2 separate regions of the Homo sapiens genome follow, and region 1 is linked to region 2. Evidence: fine-mapped expression QTL. A gene starts in region 2. The other region holds a variant in brackets. All regions are shown on one strand. Distances are between the middles of the regions.

Region 1 (4,268 bases), 26 kb before region 2:
ATAAATCCTGCCTGTTTCCCATACATGGAAAGAACTTGAATTCTGGATTTAATACAATCCACTGGGAACACGACAAGCCACAGGCAAATTCCAGCAACTCCACCACTTAACATCAAATGGACAGGGCCTAGTTCATCTTTTGATCTCCCTGACGCAAAAAACGATCGGCTCAGTTCATAGCCACCAAAGAAAAAGAAATAACCCGGTACTTCTTGAAGTAGAGTACTCGAGAGTCCATGGTAGAAGCCCAAGGGGCCATCCTTTTTAAGGATACCCTTCACGACAGACCAAATTGTATTATGGCTTTTTGCTATCTTCCCTGACATCTCCATTTCATACATGGTCTGTAGCCGGCACTTCACAAGCTCAGTGGGGCAGAGAGCCAGTGCAGCAAATGCAGAGGCGAAGGACCCCGCGGCTGCAGTCTGGAGATCACTCAGCTTTGCCTGCTTGTCCATTCCAGCCACTTTCCTGACAAACTGCTGGCAGAACCCGTAGCACATGAAGAGGACCGAGTTTTCGGCGACGTAGGCCATAAGTGCCGGGCCGGTGCCCTTGTAGAAGCCCCGGAGACCCACTTGAGCGTATGTCTTCAGGAAGCAGTCGGTGAGGCCCTTGTACAGGTCAGGGAACGTCTGCATCTTCACTTTTATTGTGTCGAAGGGCTGCCCAGTCAGTACACACGCTGTCCCCCCTGCGGCCCCCGCTGTGAGGTCGATGGCGGCTTGGATGCCAGGACCGGACTTCATGTTCGCTCACTCGTCTGAGGGTCCCAGTGGAAGGCGACTAACTCCCCAGAGCGTGAGACCGGCTTTTCACGTCCAGCCGCAGCGAGCGCGGGGAATGGAGTTGGGGGTGGTGGGGTGGCTCTACCGCCTGTTCTGGGCTCTCACCCCAGTGCGGGGGAAGCCGCTCAACCCTACGCTCCGCCGCGGGCCGCCCCCTCCCCGCGCACTAAAATAACCCCCAGCTGCCGGCCCAGCGCGCGGCTCACTAGCGTTCCTGCGGCTCCTGGCGCACTGGCCGGGCCCCCAGCCGCCTCCAGCCTGGAGCCGCCATCCCTGCACCCGCAGGCGGGGGACGCGGACCGAATAAATACTTTTAGTGTACTGCGACTGGGCGCGGTGGCTCACTCCTGTATCCCAGCACTTTGGGAGGCCGAGGCGGGAGGATCGCTTGAGCCCAGGAGATCGAGACCAGCCTGGGCAATATGGCAAGACTCCATTTCTACAAAAACGAAAAAATACCCGGGCGCGATGGCGCGCGCCTGTGGTCCCAGCAATTCAGGAGAATGAAGCGAGGATCGCTTGAACCCGGGAGGTCGATGCTGCAGTGAGCTATGATCGCACACTGCACTCCAGGGTGGGCGAAAGGGTGAGGCTCTGTCTCAAAACAAAACCAAAACCAAGAAAACATGTAAAGCTTTTCGATAAATTCTTGCAATTATGGCCGGGAACTCTAGACGCCGCAGTTCAGCTGGCGGCAAAAGAAATGCTGTCCTAATCAGTCAGCCCTGCTTCTTTTCTTTTCTCTCTTTTTTTTTTTTTTGACTTAGGGTCTCACTCGGCCGCCTAAGCTGGAGTTCAGTGGCGCGATCCTGGCTCACTGCAGCCCCAATCTCCTGGCCTCAGGCGATCCTCTCACCTCAGCCTCCTGAGTAGCTGAGACTAGAGGGACTACAGGCGCAAGCCACCACATCTGGCTAAATTTTGTATTGTACAGACGGGGTTTCGCCATGTTGCCCAGGCTAGTCTCGAACTCCTGAACTCAAGCAATCCACCCACTGGCCTCCCAAAGTGTTGGGGCTTACAAGCATGAACCACCACACCCGGCCTATCCCACGCTTCTTACCATGCAAAAAACAAAAACAAACAACCCGAAAAGAAGATGCCCTCACTTGAATAGACCCTGAATTCAGAGGGTCAATCTACAAGAAAACTGCTTTAAAGTAGATAAGACAGGCCAGGTGTGGTGGCTCATGCCTGTAATCCCAACACTTGGAGAGGCTGCGGAGGGAGGCTCATTTGAGCCTAGGAGTTCAAGGCTAGCTTGGGCAGCAAAATGAGACACCCCTTACCCCCTACAAAAAATAAAGTAGAGAAGACAAACTGTCAGAGGCGCTGGAACCACAGCAACTCCATCTTGACTAGGGACTGAGTAAAATAAGGCCGAGACCTACTGGACTGCATTCCCAGGAAGACAGGCATTCTAAGTCACAGGATGAGATAGGAGGCCGGCACAAGATACGGGTCACAAAGACCTTGCTGATAAAACAGGTTTCAGTAAAGAAGCCAGCCAAATCCCACCAGAATCAAGATGGCATAATAAGTGACCTCTGGTCGTCCTTACTGCTCATTATACGCCAATTATAATGCATTAGCATGCTAAAAGACACGCCCACCAGCGCCGTGTCCACTTACAGATGCCATGGCAACAATAAGAAGTGACCCTATGTGGTCTAAAAAGGGGGAGGAATCCTCAGTTCCGGTAACTTTGGACCCCTTTCCCAGAAACCTCATGAATAATCCACCCCTTGTTTAGCTTACATTCAATAAAAAACTGTAAGTATCCTTAGTCAAG[C/T]CGCCCAGGCCACTGCTGTGCCTATGGAGTAGCCATTCTTTTGCTTCTTTACTTCTCTAATAAACTTGCTTTCACTTGACTCTATGAACTTGCCCCAAATTATTTCTTGCATGAGATCCAAGAACAATCTCTTGGGTCTGGATCGGGACCCCTGTCCGGTAACGAAACGATCTGAGGGTTGCTACATGAGAGACAGTGACTGCTTTTGATCAGAAAACCCTCAGCGATCTGCCCACGCTCCTCACTTTCCTGGGGGGCAAGGAGGGGAGTAGGGCACTGTGGGAATCCTTAGCCCTGGAGATGTGCTACTGCTTTCCTGCAGAGCTGGAGAAATGCTATCACATGGCAACATCCCCAAGGATCTGGGGTTGCAGCCCTGGGAACTGGTGGAACGTGGAGTCCTTATCATTTCTGAAGATAGAACACGGCACTATAAAATCAACTTGGAAAATGGATAGTATTTATATACTGCATTGCTAAGAAACTTGATAGAAAAGAGCTGGGTGGCTCAGCACTATGCTTTCTAAGTTTTGAGATTCTCTTTGAGGACCCACACAGCCTCATGCAGAAGTAGAAATTTGTCGTTTGTACACTGTTGGTGGGAATGTAAAATAGTTCAACCCCTATGGAAAGCAGTATGGAGATTTCTCAAAGAACTAAAAATAGAACACCCATTCAACCCAGCAATCCCACTATTAGGTATCTACCCAAAGGAAAAGAAATCATTTTATCAAAAAGACACCTGTGCTGGGGACAGTGACTTACACCTGTAATCCCAGAATTTTGGGAGCCCAAGCCAGGTAGATCGCTTGAGCCCAGGAGCTCCAGACCAGCCTGGACAACATGGCAAAATGCCATCTCTACAAAAAAATACAAAAAGTAGCCATGCATGATGGCATGCCCCTGTAGTGGCAGCTACACAGGAGGCGGAGATGGGAGGATTGACTGAGCTGAGTTGGAGGCTGCAGTGAGTTATGATCCAGCCTGGGTGGCAAAACAAGACCCTGTCTCCAAAAAAAAAACCAGAAAACATCTACACTCATATGTTTATGGAAGCACTATTCACAACAGGAAAGTCACAGAATCAATGTAAGTGTTCATCAATAGTTGATTGGATAAAGAAAATGTGGTATATGTATACCACGGAATACTATGCAGCCATAAAAAAGAATGAAATTATGTCCCTCACAACATGGATGGAGCTGGGGGCTGTTATTCTAGGTGAAATATCTTAGAACCAGAAAATCAAATACTGCATGTTCTCACTTATATAAGTGGGAGCTAAACAATGGGTACACAAAGACATAAAGATGGGAATAACAGACACTGGGGAATCCAAAAGTGGGGAGGGTGGGAGGGATTGAGGGTTGAAAACCTACCTGTTGGGTACTACATTCACTATGTGGGTGACGGGTTCACTAGAAGCCCAAACCTCAGCGTTACACAACATACCCATGTAACACACCTGCACATGTACTCCTTGAATCTAAAATGAAATTCAATTTAAAAAGAAGTAGAAGTTCGGGATACAAATGACATGTCTAGCTTTCAAAGCAAGATGTTTTTTGGACATTAGTGAGGATACCACTGTCAGGACACACTTCTTCCTCCCAGATATTTATAATCCCAGCATTGGAATGAATTCTCTCCAGGCTTACATTCCAAGCCGTCGTCGGCCATGGGTAGTA
Region 2 (4,268 bases):
GGCTGTTTTCAGCTGGATCTCTGGTCCAAGCCCGGATATGGAGTTGTCTCCAACTTAAAGAAAGGAAATTTGCCCTGTTCCTACAACGTATGTGTGGTTTTAGATATTTTTAAAATCTTAATTTCTTTAACTCAAGAAACAGCTTTGAACCAGGTATTCTCTGCAGTGCCAGCAATGAAGCTTTGTTTTATTTTTGTTTTTGTAGAAACGGGGTTCACTATATTGACCAAGCTGGTCTCAAACTCCTGGCCTCAAGTAATCTGCCCACCTTGGCCTCCCAAAGTGCTGGGATTGCAGGCGTGAGCCACTGTGTGTGGGCAGCAATGAAGCTTTAAATGTTGCATTTGATTCAAATGTATTTGTGTGATATTTTAACATTTTTATTTTATACTTACCATCCTTTTATAAATCACTCCTGCGTGTTTTTGGTTGCTGAAAGTAGGGAGCTCTACAGGTTTACTTACTAGTTCTTATGTATATTTTAATTTACCTCATTAGCTCACAATTTCTTTGGGGAAAAGTTTATGCCTATTAATGTGTATTCTGAAAAGTTACATTCTCTGTTAAAGAGTTACTTCCTTGCAATATTGAAGATGATTTATTGCACCTTTAAATTTCTACTCTTTGGCTCCATGTACTTGTCTTTGAGAAGCTGAGAAACTGTAGATTTGGTTAAGAACTAAAGTTCTCTTTCCAAAAACTATTATTGAGACCTTTCATTGTTTTCTTTCTTTCCTCATTTTTAACTTTTCTCAGTCATGGTGTCCATGGGTTGGCTGGCCGAATTTGTTCCTGAAATTATCAGACTCTGGAGTACAGATAGCATGCTTCTCTAACTTTGGGGTAAAGATAAGTAAGTCACTCTAAGCCTGAGACATTTTAATTAGTAACCCTTTGCTAATAGTGCAGTGATTAAAAAAAAAAGAAGGCCACATCCTCAACTGGTTAAAAAATACTGTTAAGAGAAAACCAACTTCTCTTGGAGAAAATATTAAGTGCGATTATAGAGGAATACATATTATAAGAGCCTATCTAAAAATAAAGATGAGACCATTTTTCTTTTCAGCTGTGAAGAATAATATCATAGACTTTGTCTCTGAAATTTGAAATCTAAATTATATATTCATGTGACTTTTCAATGAAATTCCAAGAGCCCAGTTTTATTTTTTTCAAAATATATTGCCTTTGGTGAATCTTAAGAATTTTTTAAAAACCCACATAATGCAAAGACACTTCAAAAAAAAAAAAGAGGAAAAATAAGGATAGGGTTAAACCATGCTCTTCAAAATCCCAAGGTTTCTGATAAATATTCAAATCATAATGGGAAGGAAATGGGATGGTATGATTTTTTTAAAGTCTAGCTTATATTCTAAAAGATTATTTTTCCCTCTAATACTTTTCACCCTCCAGTCAAAGGGGAGCTGCTCTATGTGGCCTGGGAAATTACCAAGTGGTCAAACTTTACTACAGAAAAAGTGGAGAGATGATTTTGTCCTCATTGTAATGTTAGGTTTTTACTATAATTCCCTGAATAGCAAACTTGGAAAGCAGATAACATGGGAATACTTGGATTCTCCTGTATATTTCAATTTGGTGACATTTAGGCACATTTAAAGAAGTGAACATATAGTTTCTCTTTTTCATACATATATTGTAGAATTATTTCCTTGACAATAGACTAAAACTTAAGAAAATAACAAGTTAATGAGAAGGTTTTCAGTATTTGCTAGGAATGCAGTAACTGGTTAGGACTGTGGGCGCCGCTGTTCACTAATCTGGTAGATACAGGCAGTACACACAGGTCAGGAGGAGGAAAAAAAAAAAAAAGAAAAAGAAAAAAGCTCTCGTGCCTCTTAGAACCTCCATAACCGCCAGATTGAAAACTGACTGTCCAAGACTGCCTAAATCCTACTTCTGGATGACTCTCCAGTCAGAATTCTCCTGAAAATTGGGTTAATTTCAGCTCAGAAAAGCAGAAACGATACCCTTGGTACTGGACTGGAAGAAAACTACGAAGTGAGAGAGCCATGAAGATTCAGAAAAAGCTGACTGGCTGCAGCAGGCTGATGCTTCTGTGTCTTTCTCTGGAGCTGCTGTTGGAAGCTGGGGCTGGGAATATTCACTACTCAGTGCCGGAAGAGACAGACAAAGGTTCCTTCGTAGGCAACATCGCCAAGGACCTAGGGCTGCAACCCCAGGAGCTGGCAGATGGCGGAGTCCGCATCGTCTCCAGAGGTAGGATGCCGCTTTTCGCTCTGAATCCTAGAAGTGGCAGCTTGATCACCGCGCGCAGGATAGACCGGGAGGAGCTCTGCGCTCAGAGCATGCCGTGTCTCGTGAGTTTTAATATCCTTGTTGAGGATAAAATGAAGCTTTTTCCTGTTGAAGTAGAAATAATTGATATTAATGACAACACTCCCCAATTCCAGTTAGAGGAACTGGAGTTTAAAATGAATGAAATAACGACTCCAGGTACCAGAGTCTCATTGCCTTTTGGGCAAGACCTTGATGTGGGTATGAACTCACTCCAGAGCTACCAACTCAGCTCTAACCCTCATTTCTCCCTGGATGTGCAACAGGGAGCCGATGGGCCTCAACATCCAGAGATGGTGCTGCAGAGTCCCTTAGACAGAGAAGAAGAAGCTGTCCACCACCTCATCCTCACAGCTTCTGATGGGGGTGAACCAGTCCGTTCAGGGACCCTCAGAATTTACATTCAGGTGGTGGATGCAAATGACAATCCTCCAGCATTTACTCAGGCACAATACCATATAAATGTCCCCGAAAACGTGCCGCTGGGTACTCAGCTGCTCATGGTAAATGCCACTGACCCTGATGAGGGAGCCAATGGGGAAGTAACGTACTCCTTTCACAATGTAGACCACAGAGTGGCCCAAATATTTCGTTTAGATTCTTACACAGGAGAAATATCAAATAAAGAACCACTAGATTTCGAAGAATACAAAATGTATTCAATGGAAGTTCAAGCCCAGGATGGTGCGGGGCTCATGGCTAAAGTTAAGGTACTGATCAAAGTTTTGGATGTAAATGATAATGCCCCAGAAGTGACCATCACCTCTGTCACCACTGCAGTTCCAGAAAACTTTCCTCCTGGGACCATAATTGCTCTTATCAGTGTGCATGACCAGGACTCAGGAGACAATGGCTACACCACATGTTTCATTCCTGGAAATTTACCCTTTAAATTGGAAAAGTTAGTTGATAATTATTACCGTTTAGTGACTGAAAGAACACTGGACAGAGAACTTATCTCTGGGTACAACATCACAATAACAGCAATAGACCAAGGAACTCCAGCTCTATCTACTGAAACTCACATTTCACTACTAGTGACAGATATCAATGACAACTCCCCAGTCTTCCATCAGGACTCCTACTCTGCCTACATTCCCGAAAACAACCCCAGAGGAGCCTCCATCTTCTCTGTGAGGGCCCACGACTTGGACAGCAATGAGAATGCACAAATCACTTACTCCCTAATAGAGGACACTATCCAGGGGGCACCCCTATCTGCCTACCTCTCCATCAACTCCGACACTGGGGTCCTGTATGCGCTGCGATCCTTCGACTATGAGCAGTTCCGGGACATGCAACTGAAAGTGATGGCGCGGGACAGTGGGGATCCGCCCCTCAGCAGCAACGTGTCTCTCAGCCTATTCCTGCTGGACCAGAACGACAACGCGCCCGAGATCCTGTACCCCGCCCTCCCCACAGATGGTTCTACCGGCGTGGAGCTGGCGCCCCTCTCCGCAGAGCCCGGCTACCTGGTGACCAAGGTGGTGGCGGTGGACAGAGACTCGGGCCAGAACGCCTGGCTGTCCTACCGCCTGCTCAAGGCCAGCGAGCCGGGACTCTTCTCGGTGGGTCTGCACACGGGCGAGGTGCGCACGGCGCGAGCCCTGCTGGACAGAGACGCGCTCAAGCAGAGTCTCGTGGTGGCCGTCCAGGACCACGGCCAGCCCCCGCTCTCCGCCACTGTCACGCTCACCGTGGCCGTGGCCGACAGGATCTCCGACATCCTGGCCGACCTGGGCAGCCTCGAGCCCTCCGCCAAACCCAACGATTCGGACCTCACTCTGTACCTGGTGGTGGCGGCGGCCGCGGTCTCCTGCGTCTTCCTGGCCTTCGTCATCGTGCTGCTGGCGCACAGGCTGCGGCGCTGGCACAAGTCACGTCTGCTACAGGCTTCGGGAGGCGGCTTAGCGAGCATGCCCGGTTCGCACTTTGTGGGCGTGGACGGGGTTCGG

Direction of the effects. Positions count from the first base shown, and alleles are read on the strand shown. Sizes are in standard deviations (SD) of each study's normalised expression.
For the expression in cerebellar hemisphere of the gene that starts at base 1,857 in region 2, C is the low allele of the variant in region 1 and T is the other (moderate effect, 0.66 SD a copy in GTEx).

The links. PIP is the estimated chance that this variant, and not a neighbour inherited with it, causes the effect.
Region 1: its variant is the best candidate, but not a certain one, in a credible set for the expression of PCDHGA1 in cerebellar hemisphere (GTEx, PIP 0.68).

The regions. Positions count from the first base shown.
Region 1 is chr5:141,303,117-141,307,384 of GRCh38, forward strand. It overlaps SLC25A2 (solute carrier family 25 member 2), which reads right to left and starts at 933. Exons shown (of 1, transcript NM_031947.4): 1 at 1-933. The coding sequence starts at 749. The variant C/T (reference allele first, on the strand shown) is at 2,581.
Region 2 is chr5:141,328,658-141,332,925 of GRCh38, forward strand. It overlaps PCDHGA1 (protocadherin gamma subfamily A, 1), which reads left to right and starts at 1,857. Exons shown (of 4, transcript NM_018912.3): 1 at 1,857-4,268. The coding sequence starts at 2,028. It also overlaps PCDHG@.